Homo sapiens: one gene and its partner. The protein of the gene in region 2 purifies or fractionates together with the protein of the main gene of each other region. This does not show direct contact. Each region holds a gene or a part of one and is shown on either strand. Other genes may lie near its edges.

Region 1 (4,916 bases), on a different chromosome or scaffold from region 2:
GCTTGGCCCTGACACTGAGAGGGAGGGGGACCGTCTGCCATTCTGTCCTGCCTGGAGTCCCTTTCCCGGCCAGGGCTGCTCTGGTGCTCCCTCAGTTTACCCAGGGCAGGTGCTAGGCCCAAGGGACTGCACATGGAGGGCCGGGAGGCAGCAGGTGGATCCCTACCCACCCGAGGTGGTTTGGGACAGCCTAGAAAGAGGAAGTGCGTGAGTTCCTTTCCTTTGTGCTTCCGAGCAACCTGGACCTGCAGAGTCATGGCCTGTGCTCCTCCAGCCTCTGGCCCAAGGGGCTCCTGCTCACACGCCTCGGTGCCTCCCCAGTGCTAGGGCACAAAGCGAGGGTGCCCGACACTTCCTGCTTGTGGATGCCTTTGCTGCCCCTGCTCTGACCTGATCCCCGCCCTGGCTGTACCTACTTCTTTCCTTTTTTCAAACAAGCCCTTTGCTTCCCCACCTCTGAACACTGGCTTGGGGGCCCCTGTGCCTGGGACACCCCTTTCTTCCTCCCAGGCCCTGGCCCATCTCCTCCAGGAAGCTTGAGTGCTCACTGCAGCCACCGGCCTCCCTGTAAGACAGTGAGTTGTCTGCGAGCTCTGCTCTGAGCCCTGGCACATGGAGCGACTCAGTTACACTTAATCAGCTCTTAGAGGCACTGGCTGGGCATGGTGGCTCAACGCCTGTAATCCCAGCACTTTGGGAGGCCGAGGCGGGAGGATTGCTTGAGCCTAGGAGTTGGAGACAAGCCTGGGCAACATAGTTGAGACCCCACCACTAGAAAAAAAAAAAATAGCTGAGTGCAGTGGCATGGACTTGTAATCCCAGCTACTCAGGAGGCTGAAGCAGGAGGATCAATTGGGCCTGGAAGTTTGAGGCTGCAGTGACTGTGATTGTGCCACTGTCCTCCAGCCTGGGCAACAGAGTGAGACCCTGTTTCGGAAAAAAAAAAAAAAAAAAAAGAGAAAAGAAGTAGGCACTAACATGGTTCCAGTTTTGCCGACGAGGAAACTCAGGCTCACAGTGATTAAATCATTTTCCGAATGTCACACGAGAACGTAGGAGGCAGGCAGAATCCGGAGCCAGGGATCCGCCTCTGGGGCCTCCAGTGCCTCCAAGCGAGACAGCCACTAGACCAGCGAGCCCTGGAGGGCTGGGCAGGGCCTTGTCCCCTGGTGCCTCCCGGAGCCCAGCACGGGGCAGGGCCAGCTGGGCACTTAGTTTGGACGAGCTCTGTCCCTCCAGGGGCTTCACTTTCGCCTTCTGCAGCGTGGGGGATCATGTGTGACCTTGGCCAGCCCCTGACCTCCCTGAGCCGCAGCCTCTGCATCTGGGACACCCAGGGTTTCCCATGCAGGGAGTGTCAAGTGTGGGTGCAAAGCCCAGGCACCGCACCCCTCTGCAGACGTCTGGGGCTTTCTCTTGCCCCTTCAGTTCCCTCCCTTCTCTGAGAAGCGCACCTGCTGCCTGTGGACATGAACACTGGGCATTTGGTGAGTCACACAGTGGCCACCCGCTTCTCCAGTGGGAGCTTCATGGCACCCCCACTGTGCTGAGTTGTCACGGGGGACCTCCTGGCCTCTCGCAGCCCACCTGAGTCCTGCAGGGACCAAGCATCCTTGTAAAGCCTCACAGCCCACCTGGGCAGATCGAGGAAGAACCTAGAAGCCAGAACAAGCTGGGGCTGGAAGACTCATTCCAGGCACCGAGGTCCATGTGAAAGGAGGCTTTGCGGTGGTTTCTGCTTTGCTTGCATTGAGCCTCAAACTCTTCCTGTCCCGTGAGAAGGGGGGATGGGATTTGGAGGCCTGAGGAAGGAAGGAGGGGAGCTTCCTGCGCACAAGCGGCGGCAGGGGTTTGCAGAAGTGGAGGCTGGGGGCTGCCTGGCCAAGCGCTTACCGCCCTGCGCAGCCAGGCTGGCTGGCAGGCTGCAGCGGGAAGCGCCTGTGGGTCCTCGGCGCTGACTGCAGAGCTGGGTGGAGGCAGCGGAACCAAAACTGCTGTGTCACTGCACGCTGCAGCTGTTGCCAGGGTGACCGGGTGAGTTTCCCACGCTTGCCCGGGCGGCAGCGTGCGGGCCGGCGGGTGGGGCGGAGGGGTGTGCAGAGAGGCCAGTGGTGTCGTGCCACCCGATGCCCGGGGGTGTCCACTCCCCTCTCCTGGGTCACGTGACCAGGGCCCCTGCCCTGCGGTGTTGTGGGGTGTATGTGTGGTTCTTGGGGGGGTCCCCAGCCCTCCTCCGTCCTGGGAACTGGGCTTCGGCGTCCTCATGTGTGGGTTGGGACCCCCCAGAGTGCCTGCCTCATGGAGTGTCCGGGGGCACCCAGCGGGGCTGGGCACTGCCAGGGGCTCAGTAATGAGAGGCAGCTCTCATTTAGGTGGGCAGCGGGCAGGGGGTTGCAAGCAGGGACCGCCCATGTGTTGGGGGGGGTGTTGAAGGTCCTTTTCCACAGAGGCCTGGGGTCTGCTGCGGGCGAGTCCTGAGGTTGCCACAGCCTCTGCTGGCCTTGCTGAGCAAGCACAGTGGCCCCGCTGCTCCGGAGCAGCGTGGCGGGTGGGGGGCACGGCCCTCTCTAGCCTCGGTGTCTGTGTGTGAAGTTGGGGGTACAGCTGCGCCATCCTTGCTGCAGGGCCGTGGGGGACATAGGGACAAACCTGGTGTACACCCCGCTGACTGCTGTGGTTGCCCCCCCCAGCTCAGCTCACCTATGAACCCCGTCAGCAGCAGCGAGGACATCAAGCCCCCCCTGGGCCTCAATGGCGTCCTCAAGGTCCCCGCCCACCCCTCAGGAAACATGGCTTCCTTCACCAAGCACATCTGCGCCATCTGCGGGGACCGCTCCTCAGGTACCGCTGCTGTGGGGGCCAGGGGCTGGTGGGACAGGGTTGTCAGGCCATTGCAGGGTCTGGAGGCCTCCCCAAATCACCCTCCTGTGGGCCAAGCAGGACCCAAGGCCAGGGTGCAGGGAGGCAGGTGCCTGGGCCATGCCCCACTCCCAGGGCTCCGCGAGGCCATTCCAGGGTTCTCACGTCTGTGGGACAGTGAGTGTTGGGTGGGGTGGGGCACAGGGCAGCCTGAGGCTTCCGGAGAGGAGGTGGCTGCTGATGGCAAGGTCAGCATGGGGGCAGCCAGTGCTGCGCCTCCTCCCTTGGCTGGGTCTGGGCAAGGGGCCCGTGTTGTGCCACTGACCCCCAACGGCCTGAGAGGGAAGAACGGGCTGCACAGTGCAGACACAGAGCAGGTGACTTGCCTGGGGCCCTGGTCCCTGGTGGGCTGGGATTTGTCCCTGCCCCACTCCTAAGCTGTCCTCGGAGGAGCAGAGAGAGTGAGGCTGGGGCCCAGTCTGAGCCCAGGCAGGGGTCTGGAGACCAGCAGGTCCCTTTCTGAGGCCTGGCCCGCCAGCTGGTAGTGGCGGCGTTGGATGGGGGGTGGGCTCCCTGCCGGGGCGGTGGGTGCTCCCCAGCCCTGCTCTGCCCTGTCCCGCAGGCAAGCACTATGGAGTGTACAGCTGCGAGGGGTGCAAGGGCTTCTTCAAGCGGACGGTGCGCAAGGACCTGACCTACACCTGCCGCGACAACAAGGACTGCCTGATTGACAAGCGGCAGCGGAACCGGTGCCAGTACTGCCGCTACCAGAAGTGCCTGGCCATGGGCATGAAGCGGGAAGGTAGGCCACGGCGTCGGGTGGGGGCGCGGGCAGGTGTTGGACAAACAGTGGGGCCCGGGCTTGTGCGTGGACACCCGAGATGGACAACAGGGAGTGAGTGGCCTGGACAGAAGCATGGCAAGGCCAAGGCAGGAGTGGGGGCGGGGCCCAGCGCGTGGGCACACGTGCGGCCCAGAGCGTGGGCACACATGGGTCCTGGGCGGCATGTTCTGGCTGGCGTTGGCTGTCCGGTGAGGGGATGGTCAAGGAGACCCTCAGGTGGCACTGCTTAGGTTGGAGAGGTGGAGCGGGGGCATCTTCTGAGCTGTTGGATGCCAGGGGTGGTCCCGGGCCAGCTTCCTCCCGAGGCCAACTCTGTGGCACCCCGCAGGGCCGCCGGATGGCCCCCAGGCTCTTGGAGCAGTTCCTCCTTTCCTTTTGTTTTTGTGCTCGTCTTATTAACAAATCTGTGTCGGGGCGGTTTGCAGGGAAGTCCCTCCCCCGATGTCACCAAAATTGTCAAGTCATCCAGCCAGACCTGGGTCGGAGTCCCGGGCCCCACAGGCACTGTGACTTCCCAGTCCTGGCTGGCTGTAGTCCTCAGTTTCCCCATCTGTCACATCCCCTTTCCCTCTCAGGTTTGGCGATTCCTGGCCTCTTAGTGGGTCCCTGGGTCATGGTTTGCACACACGTTTGGGGGTGTGCCTCAGTTCCTCCCATCGGGTCCCGTGCCCTGGGCCTTGTGGAGGTGGGAGGTGCTGTCTGGGGTGAAGATCTGTTGGTCTGTCCCTGTCCCCCCGCTCTGCAGGACACCCTTCCTCTGTCCTCTGCTGTGCTGCTCCTGAGGCCCAACACCTGTGTGGCTGGTGTGTCTTACTTCCTCCCCGCCAGCCCCTGGTGGGGTCCCCAAACAGGACCCACACCACTGTCTCACCGTCAGGGATGTCCTGAGTGGCCACCTTGGTGCTGCAGTTTCATTTCATCATCTCTCTTGTGTATGTCTTCTCAGCCTTAACGGTCCTGTTGAGAAATCAGAGCCTCTGCCAGGCGCCGTGCTCCTGGAGGGTGTCCTCCTTGGGCTGCGAGGCTGAGTGTGGTGTATGGGCTGGTGTGAGGTCCTTGTGCCTGCATAGCAGAGCTGCCTTCCAGAGCTGGTGTGGCCATGCCCAGTGCTGCCAGTCAGGCCTTTCTGATGGGGATTCGTGTTTCATGGAGTGCTGACGTTTGCTCAGGCCCACCCTGTGCTGTGCAGGTTGGGAAACCGAGGGCAGACGGT
Region 2 (4,916 bases):
GGTTTTCTCTTCCAAAACTATACTAGGAACTGGGGATGCAGTCGTGAGCAAGGCAGGCTGGAGCTGACACTGGCACAGAGGGAGACAGATGATCAACAAGTGAGCAAATAAGTAAGCAAGAAATGCTGGCCAGCCAGCAAAGGCCCCGATGGCAGCCAGCGTGGAGCTGAGTAGTTCCTGGGGGCTAGGCACTGTTTTAAGCTCTTTATATGCATGATCTTATTTAATCCCCCAGTAATCCTATGAGGTAGGTACTGTTGTCATTCTCCTTTTACTGATTAATTAAATCAAGGCAAAAGAGGGTCCAAGATCACAAAGTAAGTAGAAGAGCTGAGATGAGACCTCAGTCTAGAGCACCTGCTCTTAAACATTCATATACACTTATTCATTCACTCATCAAACATTTATTGACCCCCTACTATGTGCCAGGCACTTTTCTAGATGTGATACAGCAGTGAACAAAACTGACAATAGTCCCTGTCCTCATGGAGCTTGACAGTTGAGGAGGAGGAAAGAGACAATAAATAACAAATAATTAAATATCTAGGATATCAGACAGAGAAGAAAGGAGGGAAGGAGGATGAAGGCTACAGGGAGGGTGTGTGATTTTACATAGGGTGGCCAGGGAACATCTTGTGAAGGAGGTGACATCTGAGCAAAGAAGCACCGGCCTGAACAGATGAGGGCTTGACGGTGGGGTTATCTAGGGAAGAGCCCAGTAGGTGTTGGGGAGTGGGCTAGTTTAGGTCAGGTGGTCAGGGGAGACCTCTAGGAGGAGGCGGCACTGGAGATGAGTGTGGTAGAAATACGGGGATCTGGGAAAAGTAAGGCCAAAGCCCAGAGTGGCAAACAGCCTGGGCGTGTGTGAGGAACGGCAGTGGCTGGAAAGACCCTGTGCTCCCAGGCAGCCCAGGTGGCCCTTGATTCCTTTCAGACTGCTGTGTGGGTTCCGGGGTGGCGGGGTACTGGGCCAGGTCCCTAATCTCAGCTTGCTGCACCCCAGCTCTTCCTGCTGAGAAGTGACGTGGCTACTTGCACACCTCGGGGGTTTCCGGTCCGTGGTTAGCTCCTTCCCCTAACAGCATGGTGTTCACACAGGCTTTTAAACACCCAGCTGGCCCTGAAGACATCTAGTGGCCTGTAAATGTCAGAGCCCTGCTGCATCCATCGCTAGAAATCATTTCACTAATACTCTGTGCAGCAGGGAGGGAGGGAGGGCGAGCAGCTGGAGAGGATGTTCTCTGGGCTCTGTCTGCTCTTTGTCTCATTCCTCTGCCCAGCCCCATCCTCAGCCACGCCTGCGAGGGCCACCTCCTCTCACCTACATCCAGCGTCCTACCCCTTCAAACTCTGGGTCCCTGGCCACTCCTTCAGGATCCCACGGTCTGACCTGGGCTGGCCCACCTGGCAGCTGGGGAGGCCCAGCTGTGCCCCGTTCTTCCTCCCCTTCTGGTCAGGGCTAATCATGAGGCAGGATTATTGTCCAGCTCAGCCGGACCCAGAGGTCTGGCTGCCTGGAATCCTCGGCCTCCTGTGAGCTGCGTGGATCACAGTGACAGCAGTAATCCCCTTCTTGGAAAGAGCTTGGCCGTGTGCTGAGTGCTTTCCATCTATTATCCCCACAAATCTTCACAACAGCCCAGTGAGGGCGACCCTGTTAACCAATTGTACTGATGGAGAAACGGAGGCAGGTGATCACAGGGCCAGGATAAAGAAGCAGAGACAGAGTGTGTGCCTTTCACTCCCAAACCCCTTGCTTTCTCTTCTGAGATGGCAGCAGGGACACATCTCCTTCATCCTCTTCTCCACTTGTTTCCTGTGCTCTGGGAAGCCTTCTTGACCCCAGTTGGGCCAGGCCTTCCATTGCACATTCCCAGAGCACCTTCTCCTTCCTTCTCTGAACCTGTGCTGCAACGGTGGTCATTACAAAATCATCCTTTCTGCTGGCCTGTGAGGGCATGGAATTCCAGCATCTTGTTCACCTTGTCGCCATGTAGAAGGCTCAGTGACGTTGGCTAAATGAGTAAATGAATGACTGAAGAATAGGTGAGCTTCTGTGAAGGCCCTCCTTGCTCTGTCAGGGTGACAGGTGAGGAAACAGTCAGGACATCTCCCAGTTGGGCATCATGGGTTTGTTCATTTGTGTGTTAATTCTATATGCTGACCCCTGACAGCAGAGTGAAGGCAGGTGGGGGCCAACAATGAATCTGATAGGAGCTTACTCTCATGGGTTCCAGACAAGTTGGCCCCAGGTGGGAGCCCTGACCAGCCACTGCCAGTGAGATCAGGCTTTAGAAGAGGGTCAGAGGAGTCAGGAGCATCTTCTGCCTGGGGGACTGGAGAAGCTTCCTGGAGAAGTGATGCTTGAGCTAAGTCTTTAAGTTTGGGTGGAATTCAAGCACAGGAGCTGTGCGGAGGCAGCCCTTCAGGCAGACAAAGCTGAGGGAAGAGAGAGTGGCAGAGGGAAGGAGGAGGGATGGGAACGGGCCACTGAGCAGGCCACGTTGGCTAGAATATGAGGAGCACTTCAGATAGTTAGGGATATTAGAGATATTCCAGTTGGAAGGATGGGGTGGAATCAATCTTGTAGGGCGCTGAATGTCCCTAAGACTTTTCTTGGCGAACAGGTGCAAAGTGCAAAAGTGGCATTTTGGAGGCCTTTGAATTCTCAAACTTGAATAGAAGCCAAATTTTTGGGTGTGACCAGGAGACTTCTAACTAATTAAAGTAAAACATATTTCCCAGGGCTGGCACAGTGGCTCACGCCTGTAATCCCAGCACTTTGGGAGGCCGAGGCGGGCGGATCACAAGGTCAGGAGATTGAGACCATCCTGGCCAACATGGTGAAACCCTGTCTCTAGTAAAAATACAAAAATTAGCTGGGCATGGTGGCGTGTGCCTGTAATCCCAGCTACTCAGGAGGCTGAGGCAGAATAATCGCTTGAACCAGGGAGTCGGAGGTTGCAGTGAGCCAAGGTTGCGCCATTGCACTCCAGCCTGGTGACAGAGCAAGACTCCGTCTCAAAAAACAAAAAAAACCAAAAACATATTTCCCCGAAAATGATCAGGACTAAGATCACTGAACCTTTTCCAGAAGGTTGGGAGCTGTCTCTGAGGCAGGTGGTGCTGTTCATGTGAGCATGAACTGATTACCTGGTCCTAGGCTCATGTAGACAGTGTGGGCTTTTCCCTTTGGCACCCCAGCCCAGCAACTCCAGCCCAACAGGTCTGGCCCAGGGCTCCTGCCCTGTGGGGACAGTCTGAGGTAGAGTGACCAGCTCCTCCCAGTTTACCCAGGACCACCTGGAAAGTCTCCTGTCTTAGGAAACCACTCAATCCCAGGAAAATCAGGGCACTCGGTCACCCTCATCTGAGATCCTGTCTTGCCGGCTGGTGGGCTGTGCAGCTGGCTCACCCTGCAGGCTCTAGGCAGTTGGGAAGAGCAATATTGCTCCCAGAAGCTCCTGGTCTGATGGGAGGTGATAGAGACATCCAAATCCAAGTGACAGATGCTCACTTAGACCCTGTTACAGTTCACATGACGGACACAGAGGCTGCGTCTCTCTCCACTGCCATACACCAGCTCCCAGACCCCATCTCCTTTGTCTCCAGGACGTCTCTGCCCACTTCCCCTGGACAGACCTGCCTCGTGTTCCACCTGAACTGGCTCAGGGCTCTGCAGAACAGGCCCTGACTGGGCCTTTCCCTTCAATTGTAGTTATCTCTCCAAGATCCCAAATTTGTTCTCCCCACCCCTGCCCTGTCCCCCCACAAACCCCACAGAATTTGGGTGACTCTCTGGTGCCCTCAGCATATCAGTGATATGAGTCCAGCCTTTGTGATTTTTCCTTCTGCATCCCGCCTTGTACCTTCATTTCTTTTTTTTTCTTTTTTTCTTTTTTTTTTTTTTGAGACGGAGTCTTGCTCCGTTGCCCAGGCTGGAGTGCAGTGGCACAATCTCAGCTCACTGCAACCTCTGCCTCCCAGGTTCATGCCATTCTCCTGCCTCAGCCTCCCGAGTAGCTGGGACTACAGGCACCTGCTACCACGCCCAGCTAATTTTTCGTATTTTTAGTAGAGACGGGGTTTCACTGTGTTAGCCAGGATGGTCTCGATCTCCTGACCTTGTGATCCGCCCGTCTCAGCCTCCCAAAGTGCTGGGATTACAGGCATGAGCCACCGCATCTGGCTGTACCTTCATTTCTTTAGTATTTTCCTCCTAAATGGCTCATCTTTAAATATATATGTATAATATATATATTTCATATACATTAAATATATATTAAATGCAGCTGGGCGCAGTGGCTCATGCCTGTAATCCCAGCACATTGGGAGGCCGAAGCAGGTGGATCACAAGGTCAGGAGATCGAGACCATCCTGGCTAACAAGGTGAAGCCCCATCTCTACTAAAAAAAATACAAAAAAAATTAGCTGGGTGTGGTGGCGGCCACCTGTAGTCCCAGCTACTCGGGAGGCTGAGGCAGGAGAATGGTGTGAACCTGGGAGGCGGAGCTTGCAGTGAGCCGAGATGGCGCCACTGCACTCCAGCCTGGGCGACAGAGTGAGACTCTGTCTCAAAAAAAATATATATATATATATATAAAATATACATTTATATATTTACTACATATGTATAATATATAACATATTTAATATGTATAATATATTTAACATATTTAATATGTATAATATACATTTTACATCTATATTTAATATGCATAATATGTATTTAACATATATTTAATATGTATAATATATTTAACATATTTAATATATTATGTATATTATTTATTTATTTATTTATTTATTTATTTATTTTTTGAGACAGAGTCTCGCTCTGTCACCCAGGCTGGAGTGCAATGGTGTGATCTCAGCTTACTGCAGCCTCCACCTCCTGGGTTCAAGTGACTCTCCTG

Evidence for each region. Proteins that work in one complex are often made in the same cells at the same time.
Region 1: the proteins of ZDHHC18 (region 2) and RXRA purify together in Homo sapiens (affinity purification with mass spectrometry, with the first as the bait; one large-scale study listed by BioGRID). This does not show direct contact.

Annotation. Positions count from the first base shown.
Region 1 is NC_000009.12:134,405,459-134,410,374, forward strand, and holds part of RXRA (retinoic acid receptor RXR-alpha), read left to right. Parts: intron 1-1,101; exon of another isoform or gene 1,102-2,034; intron 2,035-2,690; coding exon 2,691-2,841; intron 2,842-3,481; coding exon 3,482-3,661; intron 3,662-4,916. UniProt on the Homo sapiens protein: Receptor for retinoic acid that acts as a transcription factor.
Region 2 is NC_000001.11:26,832,677-26,837,592, forward strand, and holds part of ZDHHC18 (palmitoyltransferase ZDHHC18), read left to right. Parts: intron 1-4,916. UniProt on the Homo sapiens protein: Palmitoyltransferase that catalyzes the addition of palmitate onto various protein substrates, such as CGAS, HRAS and LCK. Acts as a negative regulator of the cGAS-STING pathway be mediating palmitoylation and inactivation of CGAS.